Linked DNA regions of Homo sapiens. The protein of the gene in region 1 purifies or fractionates together with the protein of each later gene. This does not show direct contact. Each region holds a gene or a part of one and is shown in the gene's direction. Other genes may lie near its edges.

Region 1 (5,983 bases):
CTGCAAATAGGCAAGCCTCCAGGTTCTGGTGCCCAGGCTGAGGTTGGGTAAGTGATTGATTTATCTTCCACAAAACAAGCCCAAGAGCTGCTTTTCTGTCCAGGCCCTGCCAAAATCCTGGAAGATGGAAGCTCAAGAAACTGGCTATTTTAGTACTTTCAGGAAGTTTTGAAAGAGAAAATGAAAATGTTATGATATATGAGGATTGGTTGGCTTTTTCTCCTGTTTAAAGTGTCTGTGTAGAGAAGGAGAGTGTGGCAAAGAGCTCGACCACTAATTGCCTATTTAATGTTGCCAGCATACTTGATCTCTCTGTGCTAGGGATTTTATATCTAATGATCAGAAAAACTTGGAACACGATAGACTAATGTTTTCCAAAATTTTTAGAACAGTTTCTTGGCCTCGTGTATGGTGAGGAACTATGTATAGACAAAGAATAGACCTGGAATCATGAGACTGGAGCTTGTTCTAACTGAGTAGCTCTGGAATCTTATATTAGTTCCTTGATCTTCTTGGCTTATCCCCTTCATTTGTACAATGACAATGAAACCATAAGATAGTTTTATTGGATTTGTCTATGATTTCTGTTGTTGTGGAACAGACATTTTTCCTAACTCAATAAAATGCAGTAAATCCTGTTTTTTTAAAGAATGGAAAACTTTCCCTTTTCTTGCTAATATAAGGAAATTTTAATATGTTTAATGAATGACAGTACCTTACTAGAATTATTCAGTGTGCTAAGGCAATCTGATAGGAAAAGATTAATGATGTTGTAGATTGTGTGCTGACAAATTGGAGCCTCCAATGCACATAACTGACCACATCTAAAACTTTTAAGTGTAAAATGCGTTCATTAGTAACATCTCTTTTTTCTTGCTAGTCTTCAAAGCATGGAAATACTAAATGGATGGAGAATTTTTAGGGAATGAATCCGTCTCACAGTTAAACTTTTGTTATAGTTCATTCATTTTGATTATATAATGTTTTTACTAATATTAGTCATTAAATATTTTGTAATTGTAATTTTGATTTGTTAACTTCAACCAAGAGTTATTTTAAGTAAGTGCCTTTTAAATTATAAACAAACATGCAAGAAAAGGAAATGATTGGTGCTTTAGTTATTTTTCATTATCTTTAGCAAATGTGACTAGGTTTTTTTTTGGAAGTGTAAATGAGTGAAACTAAAATTTAAATCTTGATTTTTCAAAGCGATTTAGTTTCTGTTCTTTTAAAGTATACTTGTCTGCATGTTTGCTAGAGCAAAGGCTGTTGCACTTATAACTGTCATTTAGTAGGCTGGTTTTGCAGAGAGTGTAAAAATCAGGGCTGGATTCCTTCCTCTATATCCTGCACCATTAAGAACACAGCAACGGAACAATTTTTTGAGTAAGACATGACAGAAATATTTGGTAGATTCCGTCATTGTTTAGCAAATAATCTGGTTTTCCTTCCCCTGCATGCAAAGAGTAAGTATACTTCCTGCCCTGTTGTTGTTGGGTTTGGCCTTATGGCTTGCTTTGGCTGATGAGATGTGAGAAGAGATAATGTATACTATGTGCTTGCATGATTATGCTCTTATTCTCTTTTATAAGAAAAGCATGCCCCTTTCTGCCTAGGACTCAGAATGACAGACACGTGGAGCTGATTTGAACCAGCCTGGAGCAGAACCATCATAAGCCAGTTCATAGATTTTATGTTCGAAAAGCAAATGTTTGTCTTTTAGAGCCACTGAGATTGTGGGGTTGTTACATGGCATTATCTAATCAAAACTTGACTGAATTAAATCATTCATCTAAGTAAAAGAAAATTAGGCAGATTCAGTGATTTTTTTTTTTTTTTTTTTTTTTTTTTTGCTTAGGATTATAGGGGAAAGAACCAACTCAGCCCTGGTGATCTTCTTTCATTTTAATAAATTTAGTATGTTATTTTAAAGTAGCATATTTTCTTTCTACTTTATGCAGAAATCACATTTCTTATACTAGGTTTATCAACATCCATTATTTCTTTGCATATGGCTCTAGAGTCATTTTATCTGCTTTTCAGGCTTATGCAGATTTCAACCATGTGAAACATGAATATAAGTATGTCCGTGATTCTTTTTTAAATGATTTTCACCTACATTTGAAACATGTTATATTAGTCATGGCCTCTCCTTTTTCTTTTTCCTTGTTAAATGAATATTGTGAATTCATGGCAGAAACTTTGGGAATCTTACCTAAATCCAGTATAAGTGACAGACTTAAGAGTTTAACTGTTGTTTGTTTTTGCATGCAAATCATTAGTCCATTTATTTATGCATGCATTCATTCATTTAGCACCTGCTACGTGTCAGATACAGTCCCAGATGCTGACAATATTAAGAAGAAGGATGAAGTATTATCTCTTTCCCTAAAATGCCTTGTAATCTACTGGAGGTCAGACACAAAGACAAGTAAATTTCAGGAAGAGAAAAGTATGAGGTATTATGGCACCACATAGGAGTAGGAAGACCTACCTCAATTTTGTTGTGGCAGGGGATAGGGGAGTGTGCAGGGGTGAAGGTAGAGAATAGAGTTGGAGAAGGAGAAAGTTATCAGATTTTCATTCAAAAAAGTTCATTTTATTAAAATTTATTTATTAAAGTTATTAAAATGCAGGGTAGGGAAGAGACAGGAAAGGTCAAAATTAAAAACATGAAATGAGGGAATGTTTATATTCTTATTCTTTAAAGATAAGAAAGACATTTCATTTTATGTATAGAATTCTGTTATTTTAAAATTTATTTTAACATTGATCTAATTGATTTTTCCAAATGGAATAGAGAGATGGAGACTAGATCACATCATTAATTAAAATTGCAAAGTAATGGCCGGGCGCGGTGGCTCACGCCTGTAATCCCAGCACTTTGGGAGGCCGAGGCGGGTGGATCATGAGGTCAGGAGATCGAGACCATCCTGGCTAACAAGGTGAAACCCCGTCTCTACTAAAAATACAAAAAATTAGCCGGGCGCGGTGGCGGGCGCCTGTAGTCCCAGCTACTCGGGAGGCTGAGGCAGGAGAATGGCGTGAACCCGGGAAGCGGAGCTTGCAGTGAGCCGAGATTGCGCCACTGCAGTCCGCAGTCCGGCCTGGGCGACAGAGCGAGACTCCGTCTCAAAAAAAAAAAAAAAAAAAAAAAAAATTGCAAAGTAATTTTATTATAATTAAGAAATTAGAAATACATGAGGGAAAATTTTAAATATTTTATACTTATCAATACTATATTTACTTTAAATATATTGATCTGCGCTTTACAAAAATAGCATGCTATTTGTTGTTTGCAGCTGTAAAAGCAAATTCATTTTGATATAGGATATTTCAAGTTGGATATTGCTTAAATATGGTGTCCTTTATGTATAAAATGGAAATTTAGAAAACACAGTGATGTAACTGAAGGAAGAATTACCCAAGGAAACATTATGTAATAGTATGAAAATACCTATACACTAGGCAATTTGCTTTCAACTGAATTTAAAAAGCAAATACCAAAGTTATTGAGAAATCTAGCTGCCCTAGCAGTTACTACCCTGGCAATACTAACAATATGCTGCAAAAATTAATTTGACCTTAGTTTTTTATGACAGAAACTTACTTTTATAATATTACTGTAATCTCATTTAAAGTAGAAAATTATATTTTTTTTAAATATTATTTAACTTTAAAATTAATTATGTGAAAACAAGTAGCACTGATTAATGTAAAATACATTTTGCTTTAATTGGGTAATTGAAAACAGAGGAGTTTCATATTGCAATAGAAGTCTCTAGTTCCATAAATACATCATAGAGCCTGAAACCTAAAATTAAAACAGTATCAATACATTTATTAGACTGCCATAAAGATTTTTAGTTGATGTTGGTAAGTCAGTAAAACTAGGAATAAAAGTGAAAATCCTCATTCTTTGTTTTATGAATCTGAAATAGATTGTCATCTAAGAGAAGTATCTTCTGTATTTTTTACCTTACTAGTTAGAAGTAGCATACAGAATGGTTTTACTAGCCATAATTAGTTTGTCTTGATTTATGTATAGCCAACCTTAAGTTAAAAAATTTTAGTCTGTGCACAGTATTTTAAAAATATTTGTAATTACTGCTCTCTATGTTTACATATATATATATAATGTATGTATGTGTGCGTATATATGTATGTAGGTGTGTGTGTGTGTGTGTGTGTGTGTGTGTGTGTATGGGATATCCAAACCATAAATACCTAGGCATCATGAAAAATGTCCTTTATAACACTAGTGGATATTATTTTTAAGCGATTTCATTATAAATTCTTTAATAGAAGTTAATGTATATTATTTTGTAAAATGCTGTTTTAATGATATGGAAGAATTTATATGTAAATAAATTTGCTAATGACTTCTATTTAAATTTAAGCTTAATGGTCACATGCCTGAAAAAAATCCAGATTTTTCTGGACCATATTTTTTTGGTCTTTTTCCTAAAAGAAACATATATCTGAATATAGAGTATTTCCTATATATATTATATGGGATACAAATATGTAAGAAACATTTTTATAAGGAGTAAACATAAAAAGAAGCATTGCACAGCAGTTAAGCATTTGAACTCGGAATTCAGATCATCAATATTACCTCCAACAAACTGGGTGACCTGGAACAACTTACTGAACCTTTCTTAAGGTTCTGTCTATCTTTGATTACCTCACTAAGAAAACAGAAATACCTTAGGGAGTTGTGAAGATTAACCAAGATAATAATATAAAATGTTTAGCATGTTATTTAGCAGTAAATTTTATTGGTAAAAATTCTCTGGTAGTTTCTGTGTTCAATAAATATTCATCTTTAATTAAGGTGATTAAATCAGTTACTTTATTAAATATATTAAGTATACTTCTAATTTTACATTATAGATAATTTATCCCCTAACTGATTTTATTGTTTGTTTTAGGTTACTTTTCACATAGAACCATATAGCAATCGAGATGATCAAAACATGTACAAAAATGTCAAGTATATTATAGACAAGTGAGTTTCTTCAATATTTATAAATATTGTTATATTATCCAGTGATAATTATTGTTTTAAGAATAGTACATTAAATTATATTTGAGATTTGAATGATTTATGATTATTCCATTTTTAATAAAATTAAATTGTTATTGTAATGAATGTCACCATCATTTCGAAGAACATTGCTGAAGTTTCTTATAATTCACTTTCTTTTTGGAAGATTGCTGTTTTTACTGTTTTACAGGTTTATAGGCTATTTATGATTTCTGTAGTTTTGATATTTTAAAATGACATTATTTTCTAAACCTTCAGAATATAGCTTTATCTTTTTAAAAAGAAGGTTCAGATTATTAAAAGTGAACTACTTCTTTTAACACAGTAGACCCAGAGCTGATATTTTCATTTATATCTAGCCTGATCAAAAAGAATTTATTAATACAGTTTTCATTTTTTGAAAGAATTTTACTGATAATAGTCTGTGACAGATGCCATAGTCTTACAAAGAAACTTGTCAGCAACAGTAGAACATTTATCACTGATAGATAAAAAAGCAGTTTAGGTATTATGTAGAGTATTATTTATAATGTAGAGACATAGGCTTTTTATGGCATTAGTCATCATTTGTAAACCTCAATATGAGATGGTTAATACTTGTTTGGTAATGCATCCAGTATCTCATTTTCTAATGTGTAAAATTAAAAATGCATTTTTAATTATTACACTTACACAACTGATTCCCCTAAGAAATGGAGCAGTGTGCTCAAACTGCACTGACTCCTTCATTTTCAGTAAACAGTTTTTGTCTGTGGCAAATTAGTTGTGAATATTCATTTCACTTTTATATATGCTTATTTTCTAGATATGGAAATCATCCGGCCTTTTACAGGTACAAGACGAAGACTGGCAATGCTCTTCCTATGTTTTATGTCTATGATTCCTATATTACCAAGCCTGAAAAATGGGCCAATCTGTTAACCACCTCAGGGT
Region 2 (5,983 bases), on another chromosome or scaffold:
GGCAGGATTTGACTCCAGTTCTGTGTGACTCTGAATTGCTTCTTGTTATGAGTCCCTGTCCCAAAAGAGGATTGTTTAAAGGATGAGATCTTGGCTGGGTGCGGTGCCTCATGCCTGTAATCCCAGCACTTTGGGAGGCTGAGGCAGGACAATCACTTGAGTCCAGGAGTTCAAAACCAGCCTGGGCTTCCTAGTGAGAACCTATCTCTACAAAAACTTAAAAATTAGCTGGGTGCATGCAGTCCTAGATGCTTAGGAGGTTGAGGCAGAAGGGTCGCCTGAATCCAGGAGTTGGAGGCTACAGTGAGCTCTGATGGTACCACTGCACTCCAGCCTGGGCAACAGAGTGAGAACCTGTCTCTATTTAAAATAAAAAAAAAAATAGGCCGGGCACAGTAGCTCATGCCTGTAATCCCAGCGCTTTGGGAAGCCAAGGCAGGTGGATCACTTCAGGTCAGGAATTTGAGACCAGCCTGGCCAACATGGCAAAACCCCGTCTCTACTGAAAATACAAAAAAAGAAAAAAAAAATTAGCTGGGTGTTGTGGCGCATCCCTGTAATCCCAACTACTTGGGAGGCTGAGGCAGGAGAATCACTTGAACCCGGGAGGCACAGGTTGCAGTAAGCCAATATTGCACCACTTGCACTCCAGCCTGGGCCACAGAGCAAGACTCTGTCTCAATCAATCAATCAATCAATCAATGATGAGGTCTTTACATCAGTGTTCCCAAGAACCTCCTTCCTGGCCATGACAGGTCCCCTTCTGCTCTCGCCTCGCCTGTCCGTACCTGCCAGGTGAGGAAGTTGAATGTGCTGACTTCCAGGAGCCATCCATCGGCACCCCATCCCGTCCACGGTCCTCCAGGGCACTGTCCAGTGTCTCTCTAACACCCTCCAAGCTCACCTGCCCTCAACCCCAGTGATCTCCCTGCCTCTATCCCGCCTGGGCCTGGAGAGCAAGCTGGGTTCCAGGCTGCAGGTGCAGGGATAGGGGTGCTGTGGATGCAGGGGGAAGGCCCCCGGACATGGGTGTTTCCCCACCCGTTCCTGACGTGGCCTGGCTTTGTTGTTGGGGCTTTGGCACAAGGCTTCGTCCCCACCCACCCTTTCCCCTCCTCATCCTTGTCCCTATCAGGGATCACAATGAAGAAGGCCGGAGGAGGCCAGGCGCAGTGGCTCACACCTGTAATCCCAGCACTTTGGGAGGCCGAGGCAGGTGGGTCACTTGAGGTTAGGAGTTTGAGACCAGCCTGGCCAACCTGGTAAAACTCTGTCTGTAGTCAAAATACAAAAATTAGCCAGGCATGGCAGCATTGCCTGTAATCTCAGCTACCTGGGAGGCTGAGGCAGGAGAATCACTTGAGCCCACAAGATGGAGGTTGCAGTAAGCCAAGATCATGACTGCACTCCAGCCTGGGTGACAGAATCAGACTCTATCTCAAAACAAAAAAAAAAGAAGGCTGGAGGAGTGGGAGAGGGAAGGGGCCTGGAGACCCTTGGGAATAAATCGCTCCTCATCCTTGTCTTGCGGAGCTGCCTCTTGTCCAATCACCTCCCGTTCACCCCGTGGTGAGGGAGGGGTCCTCACCCTAAATGGTAGATGGTTGAATACACACCACCCTACCCAGCACAGGTGACGTCCATAGCAGCTTCTGTTTATCACATACAATCACAGCTCACACCTTACTCGCCAAGGCCCCGTGGGAGTGCACTGTGGAGCGGACTGAACACGCAGGGGCAGCTGGGTAGCAGCAAGGGGGCGGGTGCCCTCCGACTCCTGCAGAGGACGTGAGTGGCTCATTTGAATAATTTCACCAGCTGGCAGGGAGGTGGAAACTGTTGGGTGGAGGACCAGGTGGGGTGCAGCTGGTCTGACTGATAGTGGAAGAGCTAGACAAGAGGACTTTTCTGCTGGTGGGGGCTATCAGGTGACAGCAGGGGACTCCTAGGCCCCTGGGGGCCTTCAAGGCTCAGATGTCAAGAAGCACATGGGATTTTAGCCTCGCTGTACACCTTCTTCCCCAGAAGGCTTTGGGTGAAGACTCAGTGGGGACCAGGAGTGTGGAGCCATGGACCAGGACCCCCCGGGGGCAGAGAGGATAGGCAGTGAACCCACATTCACATTCCTGGCTTGCTGTTCCAAGCACCCACCATGAGCCAGGCCCTGTTCCAAGCATTCTCCCTGTGATACCTCACAGACCCTCGCAGCAGCCCACTGACGGAGATGCTGTGAGTGCCCCATCTTACAGAAGGAAAAACTGAGGCACAGCAGCCCGCCCCAGGTCCCACAGCTGGCAGACGTGGTGGAGCCAGCGTTGGATTCAGGCCACCAGCTCTGCAGCCTCCACGTGGTGGCAGCAGTCAGCCTTGGTCTCTGTGCAGTCAGACGGCCCTGGGTTCAAATCCGCACTCTGCCCTGGCCAGGTGCTTAGCCTCTCTTGGAAGAGGAAAGACAACAGGCAAGGCAGAGGGGGTGAAGAACACTGGCCGGGATTAATTAGCGGTCACTGCCATTTGTCAGCCCTCCTTTGTGCCCAGCACTGTTTCTAGCTCCTTTCCATAAATGACTTTCATTTAATCCTCACAACAACCTGCTCCACATTCTACCAGGGAGCTTGGTGAGGCTAGAGGTGGCAGTGCTGGTGGCTGATGACTGTGATCCCAATGCTTTGGGAGGCTGAGGTGGGAGGATTGCTTGAGCCCAGGAATTCGAGACCAGCCTGGGCCACAGAGCAAGACCTCGTCTCTACATAAAATTCAAAAACAAGTCGAGCATGGTGGTAGTCCCAGCTCCTGGGGAGGCTGAGGCGATGGCTTGAGCCCGGGAGTTCGAGGCTGCAGTGAGCCGTGATCATATCACTGCACTCCAGCCTGATCAACAGAGCAAGACCCTGTCTGTAAAAGAAACAGAGGTGGGAATGCTGGAAGGGGCTGCCCAGGTTGGAGAGCTCCAGACAAGGGTTCCATGGCTGCTACCCCGAGGCTGCACAGTGTGAGCAAGGAAGGCACTTAACTGGGGGTTCTCCACACCCCCAGCCTAAGGCAAACAGAGAAAGATGTTAAATACTGAGCCTGTCTTTATTTAAAACTCTGACATTTTGTTCCTCATGGGTTTTTTGCATTAATTTTCATTTTTTAAAGTACTGCATTAAAATATCATTTATCTCAACTACTAAGAATTGAGGCACCCCCATAAATTTTGTGCCCTAGGCCAGGGCCTCACTTGCCTCACCAAGCCCCCGGCCTCTTTGGGGTCCTGAGACCCGGGGTCTGATGGGCGAGAAGTTGGCCTGCGTGAATGAGCAAACAAATCTGTGACCCACCGTCGGTCATGGAGTGGGAGAATTCAGTCTCAGGGTGAAATGATGTGCCAAGGTCCCAAGGCTGGGAGAACATGGCACTTGGGTGTGAGCCCTGGCTGTCCACAGAGTTCGTGTCTTCTGCCCTAACCTTCTGCCCTCGCACAGGTCAGGATTTTACTGGAATGGCGTGGCTGTCTTCCCCAAGCCTCCCCAAGATGGGGTGTACCCCAACATGAGTGAGCCTGTCACCCCAGCCAACATCAACCTCTATGCCGAGGCCCTGGTGGCCAACGTGAAGCAGAGGGCCGCCTGGTTCCGGACACCGCACGTCCTCTGGCCCTGGGTAAGGCAGAGTCCCAGGTGCTGTGCCCTCAACACAGCCCAAGGAGCACTATGCAAGCCCTGGTCCCTGCACCCAGGGCCACCCTATCCAGACCCAGCTAGGCAGCCATGCTCAGCCCAGTGGCTCCATCCTCCTTCCCTGCAGACCCCTGGGCCTCTCCCACTCTACCAGCCCCTCCCCCACCTGGAAAAGCACCCTCACCCACGCTGGCCTCTCCAGCTCCCACTCAGCTCTCTTCCCTGCCTGGGCCGGGCTGGCTCCCGGCTCGGGCACTGCGTGCCTTAGAGTCCATTGAGCTTCAGTTGCCTCCGCTGTAAAATGGGGATGGTGGCAGCAGGCTTCATAGGCTTGGTGAGAGGTGAAGCGTTCCCGGGAAGCCAGTGCCCGGCACGTCGTGGCCATCGTCACAGCTAACCTTTAGTGAGCACCTGCTGTGTGCTGGGCACTGCCCCGTGGGATATATTTGTCTCAGCCATCTAATTTGCACCACTGGGCCTAGGAAGCAGGCTGGTATCCATTTCACAGTTGAGGAAACCAAGGCCCAGAGAGGTTAAGGAATTTTCCTGAGGCCACAGAGTTCCTTAGGGTGGCTAGGAAGGGGTGGAATTTGTGTTCAGACCCAGTCAGGCGGGCCCCAGAGCCTGCCTTCTTCATCCGTGACTGCCCTTGTGAAGGCAAGCTTAAGATCAGTAACTCAGTCATGGTTATTATTGCTGTTATTAATCATTATATTAATTATAATAATTAATAATCATTAATTATAATGATTTGGATAAGTAGTAACACTGATGGGCCTTAAGAGATGCCCAGGGCCGGGCGCTGTGGCTCACACCTATAATCCCAGCACTTTGGGAGGCCAAGGCAGGCAGATCACCTGAGGTCAGGAGTTCGGGACCAGCCTGGCCAACATGGTAAAACCCTGTCTCTACTAAAAATATAAAAATTAGCCAGGTGTGGTGGCGCCTGCAGCCTCAGGGAGGCTGAGGCAGAAGAATCACTTGAACCCGGGAGGCGGAGGTTGCATGAGCCGAGATCAAGCCACTGCTATGGGAGCTGGTTTGGGGCCCCTGTTGGCCGCCTTGGAGACTGGGAGGGCAGCTGGTGGAGGGCAGCGATCGGCCCACCCCCACTGGGCGAGCGCCCTGCTCCCACGGCACAGGATGTTGCTCCCATGTCCCTGCAGGGATGTGACAAGCAGTTCTTCAATGCCTCGGTGCAGTTTGCCAACATGGACCCGCTGCTGGACCACATCAACAGCCATGCTGCCGAGCTCGGTGTCTCGGTGCAGTATGCCACGCTGGGCGACTACTTCCGTGCCCTGCACGCTCTCAATGTCACCTGGCGTGTCCGCGACCACCACGACTTCCTGCCCTATTCCACAGGTACAGGCTTCCAGGGGCTGGGGTGGTAGTTTGGTGGCAGGGAGGGTATAGTCCACGTACCCTCTGCCCACTTCAGTGGCTGCTCGGCACTGCTCTCCAAGCCCTGGAGGGGTTCCAGGCAGGTTCTGTGTGGGGCGCAGGGGCAGAGACTGACCCTCTCTGCTCACTCCACCTGGACGTCCTGGCCACCACATGCACCACCTGATTCCCACAGGGTTCAGCCTCTCACCATTGCCCACCACATGCAGTTTCCTGCCTCTGGCCTTTGCACAGGTGGTGCCTCCTGCTGGGAGCGGCCTCCATCACCTTCTCTTCCTGCATGAGTTCCACATAAACCTCTTCTACGAGCCCTTTCCTGATGCTGAGGCTGACTCGGGCTTCCTTTCACTGCACAGTCATTACTGGGCACCTCCTGTGCATCATGCCTGTGTCCTCAGGCCAGAACTGGGTTGGCCACCAGCAGCACAGCCTGAGAGCTAAGAGGGCTGGCTGTGAGTAAGCCTCTACTCGCTGCCTGTGTGCAAGTCATGAAACCACCCTGTCTCCAAAGGGGGACATTTGTGGTGCCTCGTGCATAGATAGGGTTGCTGTGAAAATTCAATGAGAAGAAGTGCTCTCAGCCTCCTGCCCAGCACAGAGGCAGGGCTCAGCAGATGTCCTAGACCTCTGGGTGCTGCTGTAACAGTATACCACAGAATGGGTCATTGATTAGGAAACGAAGTTTCTTTGGCTCACAGATGTAGAGGCCGGGAAGTCCAAGGTGGAGGGCTGGTGTCTAGAGAGGGCCTTCTTTCTGCATCACCCATGGCTGAAGGCTGAGTGCAAAAGAACAGCCGGACAAGGGGGTTGAACTTGCTTTTCTAACAATCCCAGTCCCATGACAATGACATTAATCTGTTCACGAGGGCAGAGCCTTCATGGCCTAATCTCCTCTTAAGCATCCCACCTCTTAATAC
Region 3 (5,983 bases), on another chromosome or scaffold:
CAAGAAGGCTGTGTCCCCACACCCTCTGGGGCAGAATTCACTGCTTCCCCTTCAGGACTCCCTGGAACCCTGTTGCACTTCATCATGGGTTGTCGTTGCTAATTGCGCAGGAGTCTGTCTGCCCATTCCATGCTGGGGTCCTGGGGGACAGAAGCCTGTTTGATTTTTCTTTGTGCCCCAGGACATCTTACTGTAAATTAGAGAATTGGTGTCAGTTGTGTTAAATGAGCTGGTTCACAATGAAGTGGTGTCTTCTGCTTCCTGATCTTGGGCAGCTTCTAGGCCTTAATATCAATTTCTCTGGAAAAATGGGTAATTTGGGACTCTTTGCACATGGAGGGGATGGGAGCACACTGGTTAAAATAAAATCCAAAGCTGTCTTGGAAGTGGCTTTGTAAGTACTGTGAGAGGAAGTGGTTTATTCTTTCAACACAGAAAAAATACTTCATGAACTCTACTGTCCACCAGGATCTGGGGACATAGTGATCATGCACTCTCTCTCTGTCCTTAAATAACTTGACTACAGTACGGCTAAGCAGAGTGTGCTGTGGGAATATGCAGGAGGAACACCTGACTCACCTCAGGTGGGTCAGTCAAGCCAAGTTATAGGTGACATCTGAGGGCTGTTGAAGCCAGTGAGACACAGGGTGATGGCACTCCTATCAAAGGGAACAGCTCGGACAAAGGCCCAGGCATGAGAGAACAAAGCTATGTGCCCACAATAAGAGAAGCCTAGACAGACAAGAAGGTGGCATCTTGGGAGGGTAAAGCAGGAAATGGAATAAGTAAGCAGAGGCCAGATCATAGAGAACCTGGTGCTGTCTGAGGATTGCCTGTGACTTCTGGCAGGAACTGGTACTCTGTGGGTCCAAATGGGTCCAGTAAGGACAAATTACACCAGATTTATTTAATTTTCTTTTGGGGTAAGGCCTCTGGACTGTCTGATGAGAAGAGAGTGGTGTTTCAGATACATGGTGAGCAAAAATTATAGGTAGGGTGGTAGTCCAGTTCAGTAGCTTCATAGCTGGTTTATAGTTCTCTCACAGGACTGTTTAATGATTAGTGTCAGGTGAGGCACAGTGGCTAATGCCTGTAATTCCAGCACTTGGGGAGGCCAAGGCAGGAGGATCACTTGAGCTCAGGAGTTCAAGACCAGCCTGGGCAACATGGTGAAACCTCATCTCTACGAAAAATATGTCGGGCATGGTGGCATGTGCCTGTAGTCTCAGCTACTTGGGAGCCTGGGAGGTTTGCAGTGAGCCAATATCATGCCACTGCACTCCAGCCTGGGCAACAGAGCCAGATCCTGTTTGAAAAAAAACTGATTGATGTCTGTCCAGGCAGTGGTTTCCTAGCAGCACCTCCAAGCCCTGTCCCAGGAAACATTCTTATCAGTGACTTCGATGAGAATAGTGATGGCATGTAAACCAAGTTTACAAATAACAGGAAGGCAGGAGGTACAGTAAAGACAGTGTATGATAAGACCCAAAAAAGCTGAAACTTTGTAACAAGATTTCAAACTGGAATATAGTGTCCTGTAGGGTAATGAACAATCCATCATAGAGTACATTCCAGTCTCTTTTTTTTGAGATGGAGTTTTGCTCTTGTTTCCCAGGCTGGAGTGCAATGGCACGATCTCAGCTCACCACAACCTCCGCCTCCCAGGTTCAAGCGATTCTCCTGCCTCAGCCTCCTGAGTAGCTGGGATTGCAGGCATGCGCCACCACACCCAGCTAATTTTGTATTTTTAGTAGAGACAGGGTTTCACCATGTTTGTCAGGCTGGTCTCGAACTCCTGACTTCAGGTGATCTGCCCCCGCTAGGCCTCCCAAAGTGTTGTGATTACAGGCGTGAGCCACCGCGCCTGGCAGATACATTCCAGTCTTGACAAACACAGACATAAGGATGATTTAGGTGTCCGATAGTAGGTTGGACTAGACCAGGAGTTGGCATACTTTTTTCTGTAAATGGCCAGAGAGTAAATATTTTAGGCTTTTCAGGCCATGCAGTCTCTGTTGCAGCTACTCAACTCTGCCTAAAATGAAAACAGTCATAGACAATAATTGAAAGAAAGAGCATCATGGCTGTGTTTCAATAAAACTCTAGTTTGCAAAAACAGGCATCTTTCTGGATTTGGCCTGCAGGCTGTAGTTTGCCAATCCCTGGATTAAGGCCTGGTTTCCAAACACTGATCACTGAACAGAACTGGTCAGTAACTTTTAACAATTCATAGGGAAATAAGAAAGTTAGAAGCAAGGTAGTGAGTTTTATATAAAACTAAATTTATTCTCTTTAATTGGTCATCCTGACTTTCAGTATTCTTTGCTGGTCTTTTGCTGCAAAATACCTTTTTCTTTATGAAACGAAAGTATAGTAGGCAGCAGTTTTCAGGTTTGCCTTTGCTTATTAATAGCTCTACTGACAACTCAGTCCGCAGATTTCCTTTTGGAAATGTTATAAGCCTAGGAAATTTAAGCACCTGGGAACCACCAGCGCAGGAGGATACAAAGTGTGAACTACAGCCTCTCACTCTCATGTTCTGTCTCTCTTCTTCCCTACCTCCCGGGCCTGCTGACAGCGGTGGTTGGGGCTGGGATTGGGGGCTCTGCTGTGGCCCATTTTCTCCAGCAGCACTTTGGACCTCGGGTGCAGATCGACGTGTACGAGAAGGGAACCGTGGGTGGCCGCTTGGCCACCATCTCAGTCAACAAGCAGCACTATGAGAGCGGGGCTGCCTCCTTCCACTCCCTGAGCCTGCACATGCAGGACTTCGTCAAGCTGCTGGGTGAGTGGTCAGTCCTGGGGCTCCAGTGCCCAGCGCCCTGGGGCTGGTGACAGCACTGGGCCCTTCTCAGACTTCCCAGACCATCAAGGCCAGAAGGTCATGTGGCCCAATCTCATTTTACAGATGGAGCAACAGAAACAAGAGAGGGGAAGGAACTTGCCTGAGGTTACACAGTGAGTTAGTTGCAGAGCCGGGATTAGAACTCAGGTTTGACTCCTAGGCCAGTTTCTTTCCCTTTCAATTTGCTGCCTCTAAATAATCGTGATTATATCACCTTCCACATGCTAGTGCTTGCCAGGCACCTTCTGGGTGGTATGTAGGCATTACCTCAGCTCCCCTCTACCAACCTGCAAGATGAGTGTTATATCTCCTCTTAAGGCAACTGAGGCTCAGAAAATGTATAGATTTAAGCTAAAGCCATTACAGCGAGAGGTGGGATTCAAACCCAGCAGCATCTGTCCAATACACGTTCTGTTTGATGCAGAAACTCTGCTTCTCAGAAGTGATGCTACAGGTGGTCTTACAGATGTGCAAAGTAGCATAGATACCAAGTTATTCACTACAGCATTGTTTGTAATAGCAAAAGGCTGAAAGTATCCTAGCTGCCTATCCACTAGGACCTGGGGTTAAACAAATTATTGTATAACTACACAATAGGCTGTTCAGCAGTCAGAATGGGGAAGTCTTTATGCCCAGATACAGGGCAATCTCCAAGATACAGTGTATTGTTAAAGTGGAGAGCAGTGTGTGTAGTATGTGGGGGTGGGGAAGGAACAAGTCATAGCAGCTCTGTCTGTGTTTAGGAGTCCACTGCTCTGTCAAGTTGCAGAGTGCAGGATGGCTGTAAGGAGCTAGGATAACTTCCAAGTGATCTCAGTGCCCAAGGCCACCATCTCCAAACAAGCCCAGTGGCTGTCACCCCCTGGACATTCTGGGATAAAATCTGAATTTCCCTCACTTGTGGATCCTCCTGGGGAAAAAAAATGTAAAATGTTACATTATTTTCATTTTCATTTTTTTATTGACTTGGTAGTCCAAACATTTTCCCAGTGCATCTGTTTACTGTTTATTAACAAGCAGCACAAATGAACAAACCATAGCATTTGTGTTTCCTTTAATGGACCAGTCCATTTGCATCAAGAGGGCCCCAAGTCTTGGAGGGGACCTGAGGGGCTCCTCTTTGTCTCTGCAGGGCTGAGGCACCGGCGCGAGGTGGTGGGCAGGAGCGCCATCTTCGGCGGGGAGCACTTCATGCTGGAGGAGACTGACTGGTACCTGCTGAACCTCTTCCGCCTCTGGTGGCACTATGGCATCAGCTTCCTGAGGCTGCAGATGTGGGTGGAGGAGGTCATGGAGAAGTTCATGAGGTAGGGCTGGCAGAGCTGTGGGGATGGCGTTCCAGGGGAACCGAGAAGAGGTGGGGGAGGAACCAGCTTGCCTGTACTTTGTGAAAAAGGAAAAGGTCCTTGCTGAATTGAGCCAGCACAATTCAGTGCAGGCTCAGAGCAAGCCCCTGGCATGAGGAATGGCCGTATTTGGTCCAGTAATGGTCTCCCTAGTATTGTCACATTGACTCTCATTTTCTTACCCTCTACTACACTGATACTAATAAAAGCATGGGTTGCAAACTCAGTCGCTTAACAAGGGCTGAACTGGGATGCGAGTCAGTGAATCAGCAGGTGGAAGAGAGCAGAACAAGGCCCCCTCTGAAGGAGGCAGCCAGCCCTCCACCGCAGCCATCTGCAGCCAGCCGTGTACAATGCCCACCTCATGTGGCTAGATCTACTCACTTTTCAGAAGAAGCTGGAAATCCAGAGTCGTGTGTGAAATCTTTTCAGTTTTTCAACATTTGCAACCAATTCATCTTGTAAGCCAAATGAAACACTTCTGCAGGGCAGATGCAGCCTGTGGACCACTCATTTGCAAACTTTGTTGTCCTCATTTTTCCATCTAGAATAAACACCTTTCTTCACCACTCCTCCTATCCCTGGGCTCCAGCCCCCTCCCCATCACCTTTGGTCCCAGATGTGGAGGGCAAGTGGTCTGTTCCCTCCCTGTTCACCAAGCTGTCACTCCACCTTTCCCCAAAGTCCCTCCTGAAGGTGCTCCCTGCTTCCAGCCTAAGGCGCAGGGGCTGCTCCCCGGACCCCATCACTGTCTGCCTCCCTTCAGTGTCACTCAAGTGTGGCCTGTGCCCTCCTGCCCTGGTTCCTGGCACTTCTCCACTCCCTTCCCATTCTATAACTCTGCTGTTTATAGCACTTCTTCCTTATATTCTCCAGATGTCACCCAAAGCTTATTTCCTTACCTCTCTTTCTGATATTTTTCTCCCTTATCAATTATATCCAGACCAATAATGTTGACTTCTACGTTTTATGGGAAATGACTTCTCCCTCTCAGCCCTAGTTTCCTCTTCACTTCCAGACCCACATTTCAACTTTCTGGACACCTCCATCTCGTGTCCTATTGATAACCAAACTCAACATGTTTACAAAAGAAGCCCTAGAATGGGCAACATTTCAAAGGCCAGCCAGTCAGGAAATCCATCGATGGTTCCAATCCATGCTAGTGAGATTGCATGAGTGATAGAGCGACAGGACATGAGCCTGGGGGTGAGTGGGAGCCCTGTCAGATGAAGCGAGAGGAGAGGACAGGCTGGACTGGCAGAGAAGGTGACAGTATCAGCATGAAGTTGCAGTGTGTCATCAGGTCCTAGAAGCTGTGGCAGAACCGACACTGTTGGAGAAGGAGATGTGTCAGCAGGGGTGGGCCGTAGCCCCAGCTGGGTGAAGAAAGGGTTATGAACTATGACCTCAGGCAGGGAGTGGCTCAGAGCAGTGATACAGTTGTTACTCAGCACAGCCGTGATGTGAAGCCAGGCCTAGAAGGATTCCATACCTTCACACTCCCTTTAGGTGGGACAGGCCCGCCACAGTCAGAGAACAGGTGCCAGGGAACATGACCAGCCTCTTCTGCCACCACTCCATGTAGAGGAAGTGATGGGTTCCTGGTGGGCCTCCCAGGCACTATAACCCAGGGGCAGGTGGTCAGGCAAAAAGCCTTCCTGCACAAGGACTCCAGCTCTATGTGTCTTCTAGGATCTATAAGTACCAGGCCCACGGCTATGCCTTCTCGGGTGTGGAGGAGCTGCTCTACTCACTGGGGGAGTCCACCTTTGTTAACATGACCCAGCACTCT
Region 4 (5,983 bases), on another chromosome or scaffold:
TGGCTCTGATGAGTGTCACTTCAACATTGATTGGGATGTCCTGTACCTGGGAGGGAGAGTCAGGCTCTGGTTTCTGCAGAGGGCTCTGGCTTTTCTCTCTTTCTGATAACAGGGCCTGCAGCCACTCACCCTGATCCTCTCTGTGCTGCTCCTCTCCCTGTGGAGGCCCCTCTCTCCTCTCTGGGATCCTGGGGGAGCTGGGAACCAGTGACTCGTTTGTCAGGTTTGGCAGCCCATCTGAGGGCTTCTCTTTGGAGACAGAGCCTGTGCGGCTCTTGCAAAAGCTTGTATCTAGGAATGTGAGGACCTTTCCTGTTTGGAAGCCAGTCAAGGAGTTTTTTGAGAGGGGGAGCCCTTCAAGACTTCATGAAGTGGGCTCTTTAGCAATTAGATGTAGAATTTTGTAGAACTGACCAAGAACTTTACAAGTGATCATTTAGTGTGTGGGTGGCTTTTAAACAGCCAAACTCTTTTGGCGTGTACTTTGGGATCATAAATTCTACTTAAAAGGAAGTTGTTTCCTTCCTCTGATATTTGCCTATTTTGGTGGAGACAAAGAAATTAAATACTTGCCACCCATAATGAGTGCTCATCTCAAGAACAGTATATAGAAGATGTTGAATAAATTTTAATTGAAATGAATTTGTTGGCTGGTTGAATGAATGAATGAATAAAATAAAGTGCTAAATGCCCAGAGTTCACAGCAAAAAGTCAGACTCTCCTCTTCACAGCTCTGTTTACTACTCTCTTCCCCCCTTCCCCATCCCCTTCAATTCTTCACAGTCTCTACAACCTCCTTATCTTATGGAATTTCTCTAAATTTAGAACCAGGATTCTCTCCTATCTCACATTTATTATGGCAGATCAATGCCAGGAGCTTTGAAAGCTTAGCTTTTTGAAATGGGGTTTTTTCTCCTTCCTCTAGTACTTTTCTTTCCCTAGTTGATTTTTCTTTATTCTGACTAATGTATAACTCTGAAGTTATTGAGTCCACATTAGTTGATGATGTCGACTATCTTATGGATAGACATGAGGCAGAACAGCCTTTGTTTATATTTGGCAGTAGTTGTGGCTTCCTAGTATTGAGAAGCTCTAAAAACATTTCTTGCTTTTTGTTTTTGGAAAAGTCAAGCTTTGCTGATGAACAATCAACAACTGGAACAATAACAAATAAACTAGGCACCTGTTACTTTGTGAATTGAATGAATGAAAAAAGCAAAGCAAGATGTTGTTTTTTCTGGGTTAGAGAACTAAAAGAACTGCTGATTGTATTTTATTTTCTCTTGAAAAGTGTGTTACATCTATATTTCTTTATCCTATTAGCAAAACCTCAAAACCTTACTTTGAAATTAAACATTGAAAGGAAAAATTAACATTAGAAAAGAGCTAGAACAACTGTGGGAGTAGACTTAGAACAAAGGGAAGAGCCCATTCCTTCCTTGCTGTTTCCTTCAGTGAAATGTGATGTTCTTCTCTGTGCCCGAGTTTGTCTGTCTAGCAGAATGGAAAGGTAATGATACTTACCAGTAAATAATATTTCTAAGAGTCACATTATTTGTGAAGTAAGTTGTGTTTTAAAAATACCTTCCCAGTTCCTTACTAAATTGTAAAAGTAGTGTGATTTAGTGAGAGAGAGACAGTTTCAGAAGCCTAAACATAACAGCTTTTTGAGAATCAAGCACTGTTCACAGATCTTTAGGAGGAGCGGTCGCTGAATGAAGGTAAAGGCAAAAATCTCATCTTGTTGAAAATATGAGGGTAAACAGAATGTTAAGGAGTGATCCTATAAGGACCTGGGTGTTGAATTGGCAGCTGATTCAGGCTCCTGGTCCCTCTCTGGTCTGTGTTGGCTCCTGCAGTGTTTATAACATTCACCAGCTGCCTCTGTGACACCTCCCAACCTCCACCCTGAGATCCTGGACACACACCCCGGCTCTTGGCCTCTACCACCTTCTCCAGTGACTCTCCTACCATTTCAACCATGGCTGTTTCCCAGTCCTACACCGTGAGACTCTCCTGGGCAAAGCCTGTCTTTTGCTCCTTCACATCCTCAGCATCAAGCATAACGTCTGGTGCTTAAGTAGACACTTGGCTGTTTGAATTAGTGTATGAATGAATAAATGAATGGTGTTTACAAACATATAAACAACTAACCAAGCATAATGAGGTGAATGCTCACTAGAGATGCCCATAAAGGTGTTACAGAGGTTCAGAGAACAGAAATTATTCTATAGGGAATCACAAACACCTCTGAGTGGCAGCATTTGAAGGTTAGGAGGCTTTCTAGGCACAGGGAACCACGAACAAAGTGTAGAAGCATCCAAGGACATGGTACAAATGGGGACTATTAAATAGTCTGACAAAGATGCAGTGGAACTGAGCCTGGGAGGGACGTATGCAGCCAGGTTACAACTCACCTTGAATGCCATGTTGAGGAGGGGTTAGGGTGTCCTAGGGTGTGGGCTCTAGAGCTGGCTGGCCCACCACCACATACTTGCCACCTGACCTGAGGAAGACCTGTTAGCCCCTGTGTCTTTTTCTCATCTGTGAAATGAGGATAACCCTGATGCTCGTATGAAAGGGTAGATGGAAGAGGAAAGAGAGTGATGCTGTGAGACAGTAAGGAGGCCTTTTGACCAACTAGTGCCTAACACAGTGCCTGCCCATAGTGGTCATTTAATAAATGGATGAATGAATGAATGAATGAATGATGCAAATGAGAGATGCTGAGTGCCTAGGGTTATAAACTAGGGCAGTGACTGCAGGATGGACAAGTTAATTTTGCTGATTGCTCTTAGCTCTGAAAGAGTTTACATGAGAGAAGTTTGAAACCTTACAAAGTATATATTTTTTAACCTATGTTTTACCAATGCGTATTTCAACTATTAATCTAAATTGACAAATGGTATTTGCAATAATAAATAATATTGCTTATGAAATTATATTGTTAACTTGAAGAGGAAATTTTAAAGAAGGTTATGTTTAAAAACAATTTGGAGGAATCCTGAAAAAGGGGAAGTTCTTTGCACGTTATGATGCTTTGCTTGCATTCTGTTTCTTTCTTCTTTTATTTGTTTTTTACAGGATGTTTCTCTCTCTCTCTCTCTCTTTTTTTTTTTTTTTCCTCACAGCTGAACACTTTCCAGGCAGTTTTGGCATCTGATGGGTCTGATAGCTACGCCCTCTTTCTTTATCCTGCCAACGGCCTGCAGTTCCTTGGAACCCGCCCCAAAGAGTCTTACAATGTCCAGCTTCAGCTTCCAGCTCGGGTGGGCTTCTGCCGAGGGGAGGCTGATGATCTGAAGTCAGAAGGACCATATTTCAGCTTGACTAGCACTGAACAGTCTGTGAAAAATCTCTATCAGTAAGTAACATTGAGCTGAAGCCCTTTCCTATTTGAATATAAGGACTTTTAGGAAGTACCTGAACACAAGTGACCATAAGACCATTACATAATATATTGGTGGCTTCTAAGTAAGGCATCAAGTCAAAACCAAGGAACTAGATTCAACCCTGGAAGGATCAAGTTCACCAAAACATAAAAGGTCCTTTATTTTTCCTGCTCTATTGGGTATAGATACTGGAAACAGAACAGTATGTGTGTGTATTTGTAGAGCCACTGAGGCTTGCTATGAAAAACATTGCTCTTGGAACCACATAAAAATATCCAGTCATAAACTGCCCAGTTTGAGGTTTTCCAGATTAATCATTTCACAGGAGGAAACATTGTGATTTAGTCTTTTGGACAGATACTGTTAAACATTAAATTGAGCAATGTAATTTGCAGGAAAAATAACTAAGATTTATAGGTTTCCAGAAGTCTGAGGATGTCTCTCTGGCTTCATTACCTAAAATGAATTGAACCCATTCCTTAGACTCATCAGTGTCTGCCCATAATGGGCATTTAATAAATAGATGGGTGAATGAATGAATGATCCAGAGGGCTTACTTAGCTAGTGCAATAATAAGCTCTTCTGCATTTTGCCAGTACAGATAGTGCCAGTAGGATATTTATTGACTTCAGGGTTTTTTGGGGGGTGTGTGAGGGGAGGTAGGGGTGCCCTCGCTTTTATTCGTTTCCTGAATATAGAAGCCAGATAGAATACATTGGTTACTTCCTGGCCTCCTTTAACTGCTTCTTGACTTCATTAAATCAATCCTGGGTAGGTATAGAAACACCTTACACTTTTAGCATGCCATCCACTCTGCTCGGCTACCAGAAAGAGACCACTATAGCCAGGTTTGCTTACTCAGAGCTGACATTTATTGAAAACTTACTACTTGCCAAGCATCATGCTAAACACTTTCCAGATGTTATCTTAATTAAAACTCACAAGAATTGTAGGTTAGTACTACTATTTTCCCAGTTTTACAGAGGAGCTTAGGGAAGTTAAGTAAATTGCCTATGATCTCAAAGTTAAGTGGCAAAGCCAAAATCCAAGCTCAAGTCTGGAGTGCTGAACTACTTATTTTATCTTATGCTGAGTCCTTGTTTCCTTTCCCATCCTTATGATCCACATTGGGCATCTTTAGGGCTCCATCTAGGCTGCCGCTTAGTCTGGACTCTGGAGCAAACTCAGTTCCTTACTCTCCCTCCTCTGGTTCCACCCTCTCTTCTACTTGGGAGCTCATAGATTTATTATTCCATAGATTTATTATTATAGAGAGGTCACAATGGCCAAGCACATGGAATACAAAGATTTCTAAGACACTGGTCCTGCACATCAGCAGCTTGTACCCTATTAGGGTTGATAGACAAATAGATCAACAATTACAGAGCCCTGGGTAAGTGCTGGCATCTACACAGGAGACAGGAGACAGTGGGGCCAAAAGACCTGTGGGAAAAAGCAGTTGTGTTCCCTGAGCAGAGCCATAAAGGTCTCTTGGAACTAACATCCACAATCACGTGTGACACACAAACACACAGACAGCATTTCCACTTACCCCCTTTCATGCCTTCCCTCATTTTTATCTTTGATACTTCCCAGAAATCTCTGAATTGCTTGGCGAAAGCAGAGTAAGATATGGGGCCAAATGACTCACGTATTTTTCTTTATTGTAATCCATGCTTAATACAAATAATAAAGTACAAGCAATGCAGAATAATGTGAAATAAAAGTAAAAGTTATCCATGATCACTACTTCAAGTGATAACAAGTGTTAATGGTCCTTCTAGAATTTAGGTATATACAAAACTTTTAAAACCAAAATGGTTCTTTTGCTATGTAAGTGGTGTTTTCACATTAATCACTTCTTATAGGGGTCTTTTAGTCAGATGTCTGTCTATACTACCATTTTAAGGCTACAAAACGTTATGTCATATATGTATAAAGACAGCTTATTAATGAACATTTCATGTATTTCTGATTTTTCTTGTTATAAATATCATTGCAGTAAACAGCATAATAAACATTGCTCACATTCTCGTTTCTCCCTAAAACAAATTCTTAAAAGTGGAATTGCTGAGAAAGGGTGTATGATTTAAAAGTTGTACATTTCAGATTGTCAAAGTTACTGGTCTTTTCCTTTCTGATTTTGGATCTTGTTGTTATTCTTAGGAAGAACTTCTGTACATCAAATTTATAGAAATGTCCTTCAATATAATCTTCTATTTCACTTTTCATTATTTAAAATTTCAAAAATATACAGAAAAGTGGAGAGAATAACTAGATGAACACCCAAATGCCCATCACCTAGATTTATACATTGTAAACATTTTGCCATATTCATTTTTTTGTTTGTTTACATTTTTTTCTTTTCTTTTTTTTTTTTTTTTTTTTTTTTGAGACGGAGGTTCGCTCTTGTCGCCCAGGCTGGAGTGTAGTGGTGTGATCTTGTGCTCATTGCAACCTCTGCCTCCTGGGTTCAAGCAATTCTCCTGCCTCAGCCTCCCAGTAGCTGGGATTACAGGCGCCCACCACCACACCCGGCTAATTTTTGTATTTTTCGTAGAGACTGGGTTTCATCATGTTGGCCAGGCTGG

What was found.
Region 2: the proteins of MANEA (region 1) and MAN2B2 purify together in Homo sapiens (affinity purification with mass spectrometry; one large-scale study listed by BioGRID and IntAct). This does not show direct contact.
Region 3: the proteins of MANEA (region 1) and PCYOX1L purify together in Homo sapiens (affinity purification with mass spectrometry; one large-scale study listed by BioGRID and IntAct). This does not show direct contact.
Region 4: the proteins of MANEA (region 1) and NID2 purify together in Homo sapiens (affinity purification with mass spectrometry; one large-scale study listed by BioGRID and IntAct). This does not show direct contact.

Annotation. Positions count from the first base shown.
Region 1 is NC_000006.12:95,599,893-95,605,875, forward strand, and holds part of MANEA (glycoprotein endo-alpha-1,2-mannosidase), read left to right. Parts: intron 1-4,934; coding exon 4,935-5,011; intron 5,012-5,855; coding exon 5,856-5,983.
Region 2 is NC_000004.12:6,589,706-6,595,688, forward strand, and holds part of MAN2B2 (epididymis-specific alpha-mannosidase isoform 1 precursor), read left to right. Parts: intron 1-3,467; coding exon 3,468-3,645; intron 3,646-4,828; coding exon 4,829-5,027; intron 5,028-5,983.
Region 3 is NC_000005.10:149,360,059-149,366,041, forward strand, and holds part of PCYOX1L (prenylcysteine oxidase 1-like isoform 1 precursor), read left to right. Parts: intron 1-2,578; coding exon 2,579-2,785; intron 2,786-3,977; coding exon 3,978-4,152; intron 4,153-5,883; coding exon 5,884-5,983. UniProt on the Homo sapiens protein: Likely to have oxidoreductase activity. Required in the mevalonate pathway to regulate prenylation and enhances the bactericidal activity of neutrophils.
Region 4 is NC_000014.9:52,057,505-52,063,487, reverse strand, and holds part of NID2 (nidogen-2 precursor), read left to right. Parts: intron 1-3,131; coding exon 3,132-3,364; intron 3,365-5,983.